Linked DNA regions of Homo sapiens. The protein of the gene in region 3 interacts with the protein of the main gene of each other region in a biochemical or structural test. Each region holds a gene or a part of one and is shown on either strand. Other genes may lie near its edges.

What was found.
Region 1: the proteins of LYN (region 3) and SKAP1 form a complex in vitro, tested with the Homo sapiens proteins (one study listed by BioGRID).
Region 2: the proteins of LYN (region 3) and EVL form a complex in vitro, tested with the Homo sapiens proteins (one study listed by BioGRID).

Annotation. Positions count from the first base shown.
Region 1 is NC_000017.11:48,427,415-48,431,367, reverse strand, and holds the start of SKAP1 (src kinase-associated phosphoprotein 1), read left to right. Parts: upstream 1-1,153; 5' UTR 1,154-1,247; coding exon 1,248-1,293; intron 1,294-1,435; exon of another isoform or gene 1,436-1,758; coding exon of another isoform or gene 1,759-1,782; intron 1,783-3,953. UniProt on the Homo sapiens protein: Positively regulates T-cell receptor signaling by enhancing the MAP kinase pathway. Required for optimal conjugation between T-cells and antigen-presenting cells by promoting the clustering of integrin ITGAL on the surface of T-cells.
Region 2 is NC_000014.9:100,138,358-100,141,736, forward strand, and holds part of EVL (ena/VASP-like protein), read left to right. Parts: exon of another isoform or gene 1-540; intron 541-976; exon of another isoform or gene 977-1,007; intron 1,008-2,822; coding exon 2,823-2,889; intron 2,890-3,378; coding exon 3,379-3,379. UniProt on the Homo sapiens protein: Ena/VASP proteins are actin-associated proteins involved in a range of processes dependent on cytoskeleton remodeling and cell polarity such as axon guidance and lamellipodial and filopodial dynamics in migrating cells.
Region 3 is NC_000008.11:55,994,685-55,998,406, reverse strand, and holds part of LYN (tyrosine-protein kinase Lyn), read right to left. Parts: intron 62-3,722; coding exon 1-61. UniProt on the Homo sapiens protein: Non-receptor tyrosine-protein kinase that transmits signals from cell surface receptors and plays an important role in the regulation of innate and adaptive immune responses, hematopoiesis, responses to growth factors and cytokines, integrin signaling, but also responses to DNA damage and genotoxic agents.

The DNA.
Region 1 (3,953 bases), on a different chromosome or scaffold from region 3:
GCACCTTTAAACACTCACATGCACACTGGCACTTCTTTTTATTTTCTTTCTTTTTTAAGAGACAGGGTCTTGCTCTGTTGCCCAGGCTGGGGTACACTGGGGTGATCATAGTTGGCTGTAACCTCAGATTCCTGGGCTCAAGTGATCCTCCTGCTTCAGCCTCCCAAAGTGCTGTGATTACAGGTGTGAGCCACAATGCCTGGCCTCTTCCCTCCTTTTCTGGTATTCAGCTCCCTTCTTTTATCAACCATAGCACTTTATACTTTTTTCATGGCAGTTGACCTATTGTACTTAAAAAACCTCTTTATTTTGAGAATTATAGATTCACAGAGAGTTTCAGAAATAATAGAGGAACTCTGTCTACCTTTACCCAGTTTCCCCCAAGGGTAACATCTGGCACTATTACAGTACCATGTCACAACCAGGACACTGACACCAACTGTCCCTTGAATGAGACCGTGTGATTTTGTCCTTCACTTTCCTCCCTTCCGCAGCTCCTGGAGGGAAAGGGCTCTGTTCTCCTCTCCCTCAGCTTTCTCCCTGTGTTACCCCTTCCTTTCCTCAGGGCCTTTCCATCCTGAGGGAGAACAGCACAGTTTGGTTTCCTGTGTCCCTTGCTGCCACGCTGCCGCGATTCTCCCAAATGTTGGTGTCCTTATATTGCTTATTGGGAATTAATCATTTCCTTTCAACATTGTGGCTTCCCAAAGAGCGAAGTTTTGCCCTCTTTTCTGGGGATGGAGATGTGAACTGGACCGGCAATTGAGGGGTGCTATGCTTGACGGGGATCTCTTCCTTGGATTCTGCCTCCCTGCACCCTACTTCAGGCACCCCGTGGTCTTTCAAATCTGCCACCGTGAGGTCAACTGTTCGGTGCTTAGGATGGAGTGTCCAAAGCCGTGGGTCCTTTGAGCCTTGTGAAGTCTTTTGTTTTGGTGGGTGCTGGAGGGGCGCACCTTTGGCCTCGCACGGTGCGGTGCTTCCGGCACCCCCAATCCTTCTACCGTGGGGCTCCGGCGTGAGCGCCACGTGCACCCACGCCCCGCGCCCCGTTCCGGTCCCCGCCTGCCGCCCGCGCCACTTCCTGACGCGCCCGGGGACCCACGGCCCCGCCCCGCGGCCGGGCTGGGCGGGCGGCGACCGCGGCTGAGGTACAGGTGCCTCGCGGTGCAGCCGGGTCGCCTTCCAGCCCGTCCGCCTCCCGACCAGGGCCCGCGCCCCGTCCCGCCTCTCTCCCGCCCAGCCAAATGCAGGCCGCCGCCCTCCCTGAGGAGATCCGTTGGCTCCTGGAAGGTAACGCCCTGGCGCAGGCCCCCTCCAGTGCTGAGCCGAAGGCCGAAAGGGGACACCAGGCCTCCCACGGCCAGGCTTTCTTTACGGCTTCGTCACTCACCTCCTTCTAGAACCTTAAGGCTTCTAGAGCCCTCAACTCCCTAGAGCCAGCTTTCCATCCTCTCACCTCAGGGCCCCTTTCACTCCCTGGAGTCCCACATCTTCTTTTGCCTTGAGGCACCTCCACGCCTCCACTTCACCTCCCCGGCTTCTAAAGTCCTCAGGCCAGGTTCTTGGTCCCCCATGCCACCTTGCCTGGTCTCCGACCTGTCCCTTTCTCCAAAGGACTGCCCTACATCTGTAGGGTTTCCCGTCCCCCTCCTTCCCCAGCCACGACTTCCTCACCTCTCACAGAAGACCCCAAACCTTCCTGCTTAGAGGTCCCCGAGGCTCTCCAGGGGGCTGCGAGGGGCTCATGGGATCCCCATGGGCCAAGGCCAGGTGGTTGACGTGAGTTTTTGTCAGTGCGAAAACCCCAGCCCTCCCTTTATCACCCTGCAGACGTCTAGGGGTCTCACCCACCCCAAGGCAGGCTCATTCTCAGTATGGGATTTCCTCCTTTTCTAGAAGTGCCCCCATTGTGGTGTGTTCACCTTCCAACTCCCATTGTGGTGTGTTCACCTTCCAACTACAGTGTCTAAGCGGTGGTTTAAAGAGTTCCGGCCATCCCCGTCAACACTCAACACACACTGCCAACACTCCAAAGAGATGTCACAAAGAGACGTTGCTAACGGGCAGTTTCATCTGCTGGGTTTCGTGGTGGAAGTCACTTTTACTTGCTTTCCTGTAACTAACCTTCCAGGGAGGACAGAGGCCTGGAATCTGCAGTCGCATAAGGCTCCCAGGAGGAAACTATTCAGAATTAAGCCTTTTGGCATCTAAGTTGACATAGTTGACACATATTTAACAGACGGCCTGCTTTGGGCAGGTCATATTTTTGGCAAGCAGTATTTTTTTTCAGTTTCTCTCAATTTAATTGGTTTTATATCTCCATTACCTTGTTATCTCGGTATAAATGCCTCCTAATCAAATATTTGGCAAGTCCTTTTGGTCTCTGTCTGTAGCACTATTTCCATTCTGGATTGCTTCTATGTAAAAGCTGTCAGCTAGATATTTCTTTTGAGGTGAGGTTTCCAAAATCCGTTTTACTTACGATCAGAATAAATCTAAATTTTGGGGGTAGAAAACTATTTGCAGGGTAAAAGAGAATTATCTGGGTGTCTAAGAAGAAACAATCCAGCCTTTCCCTCTGTTGTTGGTTTAATATTAGGCTTGTGAAGGAAGGCTGTAATTGTCTTTGGTTTCTAGGAAAGAAGGGACTGTGGCAAAAAGTTTAACTCTGCCCTTGCATTGAAATATATAAACTGATTCTTTTTATTGGTATCTGTCATTTGATGAGAGGAAACCTATTTTATAAGCTTATTAAACTATACTTCAGTTTTGTGTCTAGGCTTGGTAGAAAATTCCTTTTTATTTTCAGAGGCTTGCAATGAAATCCATTCCTTCAGCATTTTTGATGTGCAGTTCTTCATTGTTCAAAACTGACACTTTGGTAAACAACTCATTTCTGCACCTGCCACCTTCCTTTAGCTTAGATTATTTTCTTGTTAGCTGACTGTTTTTAATTGAAGTCTTCAGATCTCCTTCTAAAGCAGAACCTTTGTTTGCTGACAAGTAGAGCGGGGTATGAATGGAGATTAATTGCATGTCGCATACTTCTGTATCAAGCTTGCTGTATCTTAACAATCTCTGTTGGTGCTCAGGTCTTTAAAATATATGGAGGAGTCTGAAACCAAATTATAAGGAGCTTCGTTGGTTAATGTATTTCTTTAAGGCTTTTTTTTTTAAGTTTGCAATTAGAACTTGAATCTGAAGTAGAGAAAAAAATGTAAAGTGTGATTCATCCAGTAATTCTATTGAAAAATGTTTGAAGATATGTTTTTTAAAGGTTCCTGTAATAATAATAGCAATATATTGGTTACAAGTTTTATTTCTTTTGGAACACAGTCGCTGGTGTAGACCAGGAGGATTATTCATTGTGTTACAAATAATCTGTCCATATTAGAAACCCAAAATGGCCATCAATTTGTTGTTTGTTGCTATTTGTCTCCCCCACCACACACTTTTTAAGGTTAACTGTTGACAATTAGAAAAAATGGAGGTCCTGATCTCTATATAGTCACTCTGTGGGAGGGAGTCACAGGATGTGAGGGCTGCAACTCTAGTGCTGCCACATGGCTGTGGGGGTGGGGTTTCCACAATGAATTACTACTTTCATAAACCAAGGCATAAGCATTTGCACAGTGATTTAACACTGGACATCACAGCCATAACTTAAGCATTTATTTATTTATAACTACACAAGCATAAATGACAGGGGCATTTTTTGACATAATGTGTGTGCTTTTAAGAATAAAATATGTAAAGCATTGTGAAAGGTAGATAACAAAATTTTGCATAATGAAGAGAACAGAAATTCCCAAGGCCTAAAATTAATTTTGTTTAAATATAAAATTTGAGACACTTGGAAATGTTTCACTCGACCTAGAAACCTCACTTCTAAAAATCTGTCACTGAAGTGAAAGGTCATGAAGTAGTATATGCACGAAGATCTATGCTAA
Region 2 (3,379 bases), on a different chromosome or scaffold from region 3:
AAGCCAAAAGCTGGCATGACAACATGATAGAATATTTGGAACTGAGATTGCCCAAAAAGGCAGAGGCAGCCAGCCACATAGTATCTGGAGGTACATGTGGCCTGAATTGGAAGGCCTCTAGAACCTGCGTCAAGAATGTCTCCATCGCCACCACAAATTGAAGGGAAACCACCCTTATCACAGAGCAGGAGGCATTGAAACTGGCCTTGCAGAGCTGAACAGGTGGTGAGAGCAGAGCAGTGCAGGTGGACAGAGATGAGGAAGTCTTAGCAGTCAGCTGGGGTTTGTCCAAGGCTTGTGGTCAGCCAGGCCGTGTGCTGGGGACAGTCCCTGCCTGCAAAGAGCACCGTGTGAACAAGGCCACTGTGGTCCTGAGGGGTGCTCTGGACAGGGTGCAGGGCCACATGGTGGAAGGGACAGGGTGCTTTGCGGAGTGGGGTGGGGCAAGCCTCTGTCGGGAGCTGGCATTTTCGTTGACCCGGACGAGGAGGAGTCTGCTCTGCGGAGATCATGGGGACAGCCTCCCAAGCTGAAGGAAGGGTAAGTGCCAGGGCCCTGAGCCTGCAGCCACCCGCCAAGCTCCCCCGCACCTCCACCTGGAAGCAGACAGGCCATGGGGCAGGGGAACGGGAAGGGTGAGGAAGAGGGTGTGGGGGAGCGCGGAGTTAGAAGTTTGCATTGTGTTCATGCGCAGGGCCCAGTCATGGAACTTGAGGCACAGGGTGCCATGGTGGAGGCTGGGAAGGGGAAGGCAACCAGAGTGGGCAAAACGAGGGCCCTGGAGCAGACACGGCAGCAAGGGGAGCCTGCAGCGCTCCCAGCGGACTCCGCCACGTCCTGCTGGTGGAGCAAAGGCGGGCTGCCATGTTGTGAGTGGCCAAGGGTCGCTCACTGGGCAGGAACATTGTCAAGGCCATTCATGCTTGGAATAGGGTCTCTCTTCAGCTCTGAGGCAAATCTGTTCTCTAATTTTCAGATGACTTCAAGGGGAACGTGTACCACCACCCCTCTGGTGCGTCACATTGCTTAGGAAGCCTGCTGTGTTTATCACTGGGTGGCTGTCAGGGCTGAGATGGAGAGGGCCAGGGCCTGGCGAGGTGGAGCAGTCGGCCCAGGTGTCCCAGCAATTGTTGCTGGAACAGGGTCTGGAACCCACAGGAGAGGCCTGAAGGACCCAGGGCCCTCTGGCTGGATGCGTTTGCCTATCAGGACCCAGAATTACTTACAGACCTGTTTAGGGCTAGGCTTGGCCTCTTTCTTGAGCTCATCTGGAGGGGTGTGGCAACACTCATTCTTCATCCTTATTCTCCCTGGCTGTGGGCAACACTGGTCCTCAGTGTCACCAGATGGTCCTCCTCTGTGCCCATGACCCCTCAGCAGCCAAGGCTGGCCCTGCCAGATAAATGTGTGTGCCCATGATCACACCCAGGGGCACAGGCCACATACGTTTCCCTGAAACCTTGGGCTCCAGCCTCCATCCCGTCCATGTGGGAGGGAACTTGGGTCCCAGCAGTGTGTCTTTCAGCACCAAGTCATGTTTAAAAGACCAGAGAGACAAGCATTTTGCCAAGATCTTCCAGGGAAGATGCATGTGTGACACATTAACATTCAAATCAGGCCAGCGCGGTGCTCATGCCTGTCATCCCAGCACTTTGGGAGGCCGAGGCGGGAGGATCACTTGAGCCCAGGACTTGGAGACCAGTCTGGGCAACACAGTGAGACCCCATCTCTACAAAAAGTTAAAAAAGAAAAAAAAAAGGGCACATGTCTGTAGTCCCAGCTACTCGGGAGGCTCACTTGAGCCTGGGAGGTTGAGGCTGCAGTGAGGCATGATACGCCTCTGTACTCCAGCCTGGTTGACAGAGTGAGACCCTGTCTCAAATAAGTAAAAATAAAATTCAAATCGGTTACCTTAGTTTGGAAACTTTTCAAAGAAGTAGTCCACGAGAACTACCTTGAAAGAGCAAAACCAGCCAGGTGCAGGGGCTCACGCCCATAATCCCAGCACTCTGGGAGGCCCAGGTGGGTGGATCTCGTGAGGTCAGGAGTTCAAGACCAGCTTGGCCAACATGGTGAAACCCCATCTCTGCTGAAAATACAAAAGTTAGCTGAAAATACAAAAGTGGCACATGCCTGTAATGCCAGCTACTGGGGAGGCTGAGGTAGGAGAATTGCTTGAACCTGGGAGGCAGAGGTTGCAGTGAGCCAAGATTGCGCCATTGCACTCCAATCTGGGGAACAAGAGCAAAACTCTGTCTGAAAAAAAAAAAGCGACACCACATGGGAGGATGTTTCTTGGGGGAGGTGTGCTATGCCCGAGCAGGCTCCAGCACCAGGGGCGCTGGTGTGTCAGGAGCGCGCCTCCAGGCCGGTGTGAACTCTGCAACTTCACATTGTGCCTCCTGCCGCCGCTGCTGCTTCCCCGAGCCCCAAGCTCAACCTGGAGCATGAGCTCCCACCCTGAGGAGGAGGCTGTCAATACTGTGTTTCTTTCCAGGGAGGCAACGGGTGGGTGCGATGTTGTCACTTAAGTTGCCACCTCTGCATAAGAGCTCTCTGATCAGAAAGCAGTTTCTTTGTTGACCCCAGCCAGCCTTGGCTCTCGGGTTGGGAAATACAGTCACGGTATCCATGGAGACCTCTTGAGGTGGAGACGGGCGTTAAATCCTTCTCAGGCAGTCTGAGGTGGCCAGAGTCTGAAGCAAGCAGCCTCTATGGAGCGAGGGGAGCAGGTGGGCCCAGCCTGAGCGGGGCCTCTGCACAGCCAGCTTTCCCCCACACCTGTCTCCAGCCAGGGCACCCACAGGCCCTTTCTCTCCCAGGATGAAGCCTGCTGGGAGCGTGAATGACATGGCCCTGGATGCCTTCGACTTGGACCGGATGAAGCAGGTGAGCATGCCCTGTGCCCTTCCCTCAAGAGGCTGAGGGCAGCCAGCAGGCGGGGGACCGTCTCTGACCAGCATGGCCAGGCAGGCCCTGGGGGCCCACATGTAGCTGCCAAAAGGCCAGTCAGGGAGCAGCCACGGCAGAAAGGGGGTGCCCAAGCCTGTCCTTTGTCCCCAGCCCCTGCCATCACCAGAACTAGGATGTCCCTCAACCTTTCTGGGCACCTCCCTCAGGCCTGCCTCTGGGGCTTTCTGCCCCGAGGAAGCCCTTAGTTTCAGTGGCGTCTACCTGAGGGAGGTGGCAGCAGGATTTTCCCAGGCCTCCCATGCCGTCCCCCCTCAGCGTGGGAAGGGGGCCACGAGGAGACAAGGGTGACAGATGCAACTCTGGAGAGGCCCAGGAGACCCCAAGCCCTTTGGACATGGCCCAGCCCAGGCCGGCTTTTCCGTCTCCACTGCCTGTCCCTTCACCTGGACACTCCTCTCCCAACAGG
Region 3 (3,722 bases):
CTGCTCGCAGGTCCCGGTGAATGTAGTTCTTCCGCTCGATGTATGCCATTCCCTCTGCAATCTGAAAACAGAAATAGGCTCCCATTTTCATATGTAGGGTAGGTGACTGGAAAGTGCCATCAAGGAAAACCGGAAAACTTATGAATTCCTGAAATCTTTTCATGTATACTATTTTGATCATTCAGCTTTTAAAGACAGTGGGTAATGGCAATCACCATTTGAGCCCTTTCTAAAATAACTGACCACCCTCTGCCAAATCTCCAACAATGGTCATCTTAAAAAAAAAAAAAGGAACATGTCTTAACATTTTCTTTTTTTTTCTTGAGACGGAGTCTCGCTCTTTCACCCAGGCCGGAGTGCAGTGGCGCTATCTTGGCTCACTGCAAGCTCCACCTCCTGGGTTCACACCATTCTCCTGCCTCAGCCTCCCGAGTAGCTGGGACTACAGGCACCCACCACCATGCCCGGCTAATTTTTTGTATTTTTAGTAGAGACGGGGTTTCACCATGTTAGCCAGGATGGTCTCGATCTCCTGACCTCGTGATCCGCCCGCCTTGGCCTCCCAAAGTGCTGGGATTACAGGCGTGAGCCACCGCGCCTGGCCATGTCTTAACATTTTCTAATGTGTGAAGAATCTTTTCAAGACCCTGCTAAATTCATCCATGTAGATACATAGATGTTATTATGCCAGTTTCTCAAATCAGAAAACAGATGCTATGGTCTGAATGTTTGTGTCCCATTCCCCGCCCCCTACCCCAAAGTTCAAATGTTGCAATCCTGAACCCCGAGGCAATAGTATTAGGAGGCAGGGCCTTGGCAGGTGATTAGATCAGGACGGTGGAGCCCTCACGAATGGGATTAGTGCCCTTGTAAAAGAGACCCCAGAGAGCTGCCTTGCCCCTTCCACCACGTGAGGACACAGCTATATGGTGCCATCTATGAACCAGGAAATGGCCCCTCATCAGACATGAAACCTGCCAGGGCTTTCCTTGCCCCTAAACTGTGGGAAATAAATGTCTCTCGTTTAAGCCACCCAGTCTATGGAATTTTATTATGGCAGCCTGAACCAACTATGAAAATAGAGTTGGAGAAAGTGACATGCTAATACAAATAAATTATTAAGGTATCAAGAACAGGATGTCGTTTCTGTCAGGTTAATCAACAGCCCATGGAACTGGCTCTCCAAGTTCTCTCTGCACATTCCCTCCAGGACAATCACAAAGATTCACTCTTTTTTTTTTTTTTTTGAGACAGTCTCACTGTCTCCCCCAGGCTGGAGTGCAGTAGCATGATCTCAGCTCACTGCAACCTCCCGCCTCCTAGGTTCAAGTGATTCTCCTTCCTCAGCCTCCCGAGTAGCTGGGATTACAGGCACGCACCACCATGCCTGGCGAATTTTTGTATTTTTAGTACAGACGGGGTTTCACCATGCTAGTTTTTGTATTTTTAGTAGAGATGGGGTTTCATCAGGCTGGTCTCAAATTCCTGGCCTCAGGTGATCCACTCACCTCAGCCTCCCAAAGTGCTGAAATTACAGGCATGAGCCACCACGCCCGGCAAGATTCACTCTCATGACAAAGTATGACAGCAGGAAAGAATCCAGGATTTAAACACAACAATAACATAGGGAGGCAAAACTACTACTCGTTGCTGAATAGAAAGTGTAGTATCGTTCCAAAGTCAGGTTTTTAAGGAAGACATTACCAAATTATAAAGTTAAGGAGAAGGAAGGAAGAAAGGAAAGGAAGGAGGGAAGGAAGGATGGAAGAAAGCAAGCAAGGAAAGAAGGAAGGAACAAGGAAATGAAGGAAGGAAGGAAACAAGGAGAGAGGAGGAAAGGAGGGAAGTAAGAAGCAAGAAAAAGGGCAAGAAGTAAAGAAAGCCAAGTAGTAGTTTATCTGGTAAGCAGTTAGAGAAAACTCTGATTCGAATTTTTCACACAGGAATGAATGTATTCTGCCAGATTCTACCTTGAATTGCAGGTGGCTCGGCTTGGAGGATCTGACTTTCCCCAGTCATCTGCAACAGTATCCCTGGTAATCAAGCACTTCAGGCCGCCAGTTCCAGACCACGTTGCTTAGCAAAAGATTAGCTCCTTGGTATTGGGTCTGCCTTTGCTTCCCCTCTAGGCCAATCCCTGGCCTCACCTTCTGCCCCGTGGGCCTTCCCTGAACTCCCCTTTACTCACCCTAGATGGTCAATGTGTACAAAAACCATCTGCAGCTGCTGATCACAGCTTTGTCATTATTTTTATGCTGTTTAATGCTCTCAGTGGTGTCATGTTAGCCAGTTGATAAACACCTCTAGGGCTGAAAATATCTTTTCTATTCTCACTTGTATACATTGGAGCCTTCAAACTTGTCACCAAACCTCTTATCAGAGACAAAGTAAGTCCTTTGGGAAATGGGCTGGGGTTTTCACATGACCAGAATACTATCTTGTTAGCCCACTACTACAGGGATTTGGCAGATGATATTCTCATGGTCACAAAAATCTCAAGTAAAATAATCAGTGTGGCCTACATCAGTCTCAAAGACTATTCAGTCCAGTATTTCACTTCCGAGTGGAAACAAAGAATGTGGTCCAAGCTCCTTTGCACTGCTGCCAAGGCCCCGTATGACCCGGCCCCGGCTCAGCCCTCCACCTCCTCACCACGACCCCCTCCTTTGTGCTTCTACACCCCCTGCCTCTGTGTGGAACGCTCATTCCCTCCCTGCCCCTTTCACCCGACCTATGCAGTTTGCCTGTCTCAGCTGAGATTTTACTTCTCCCGGAAGCCATGCCTGGCATACCCTCTCCTGCCAGGTGTGCATGCATCCCCAGTGCTCCCTGCTCCTCACCTGACTACCTGTCCACAATTTCTGCAGGAACATGAACCCATCCCAGCACTGAGCACAGCACAGCACTAAGCACAGCAGGAGGCTTCATTTCATGAGGGACTTGAGAAGTGGGACAGAGGCTGAGTGGAGCAGAAACCAGACGGACAGTAGGAAAAGGACAGGGCAGGTTTGGAGAGCAGTGACTTCGTGTCCCCTGCCTTTCTCCCAACTGTCACAAACCCTGAGCACTGGGGAGATGCACAGCTTTTACCTGACCCTGGAAAAGATTCAAACAGCCTTGATGGGAAGTCAACAGAAGGTGGGCAGTGGTGATAACCAGGTGAAGGCAGAGCTCCTGAGTCTGACTTTCTCTAGGAAGCCTCTGCTGCCCAGAAACAGCAGGCAGTGGCATGGTGAGGGCGTCAGGAAGTTCAGGATAGCTCCTTCTAGAGTGGGCACTACTGAAACAGATGACACGGGGTGGCAATTTTGGTGGCGGCTGGGAGAGAGGAGCCCTGCCTCTGTTTCCTTTTGTCTGCTGGTAACCCAAGTTCAACAAGACTTGTTAGAAAAAGCCAGTAAAACTGGGAAAAGTGGAGAGCGAAGATCAGGCTGAGCATGTGTGAAAGAAAGGAGTGTACGATTATAACACAGTAGGCTTTTGGCGATAGAACCACGATGCCTGGCTCAAACAGACCAGAGTTGGTTACAGGAGCCCAGATGAGACAGCAGCAATTGAGCGGTCATAGCTGACTCTGTCCCAGCCTCCCGGCTCCACTCCATGGTAGTGCAGCCTTTAAAAATTCTTAGCTCTTAGACACTTATCTACCTAACATTCCAATAATTATATATAAACTGGGCCAAGAACCCAAAGAAGCCAAAGCTGGCTGAAGTCCCAAATTG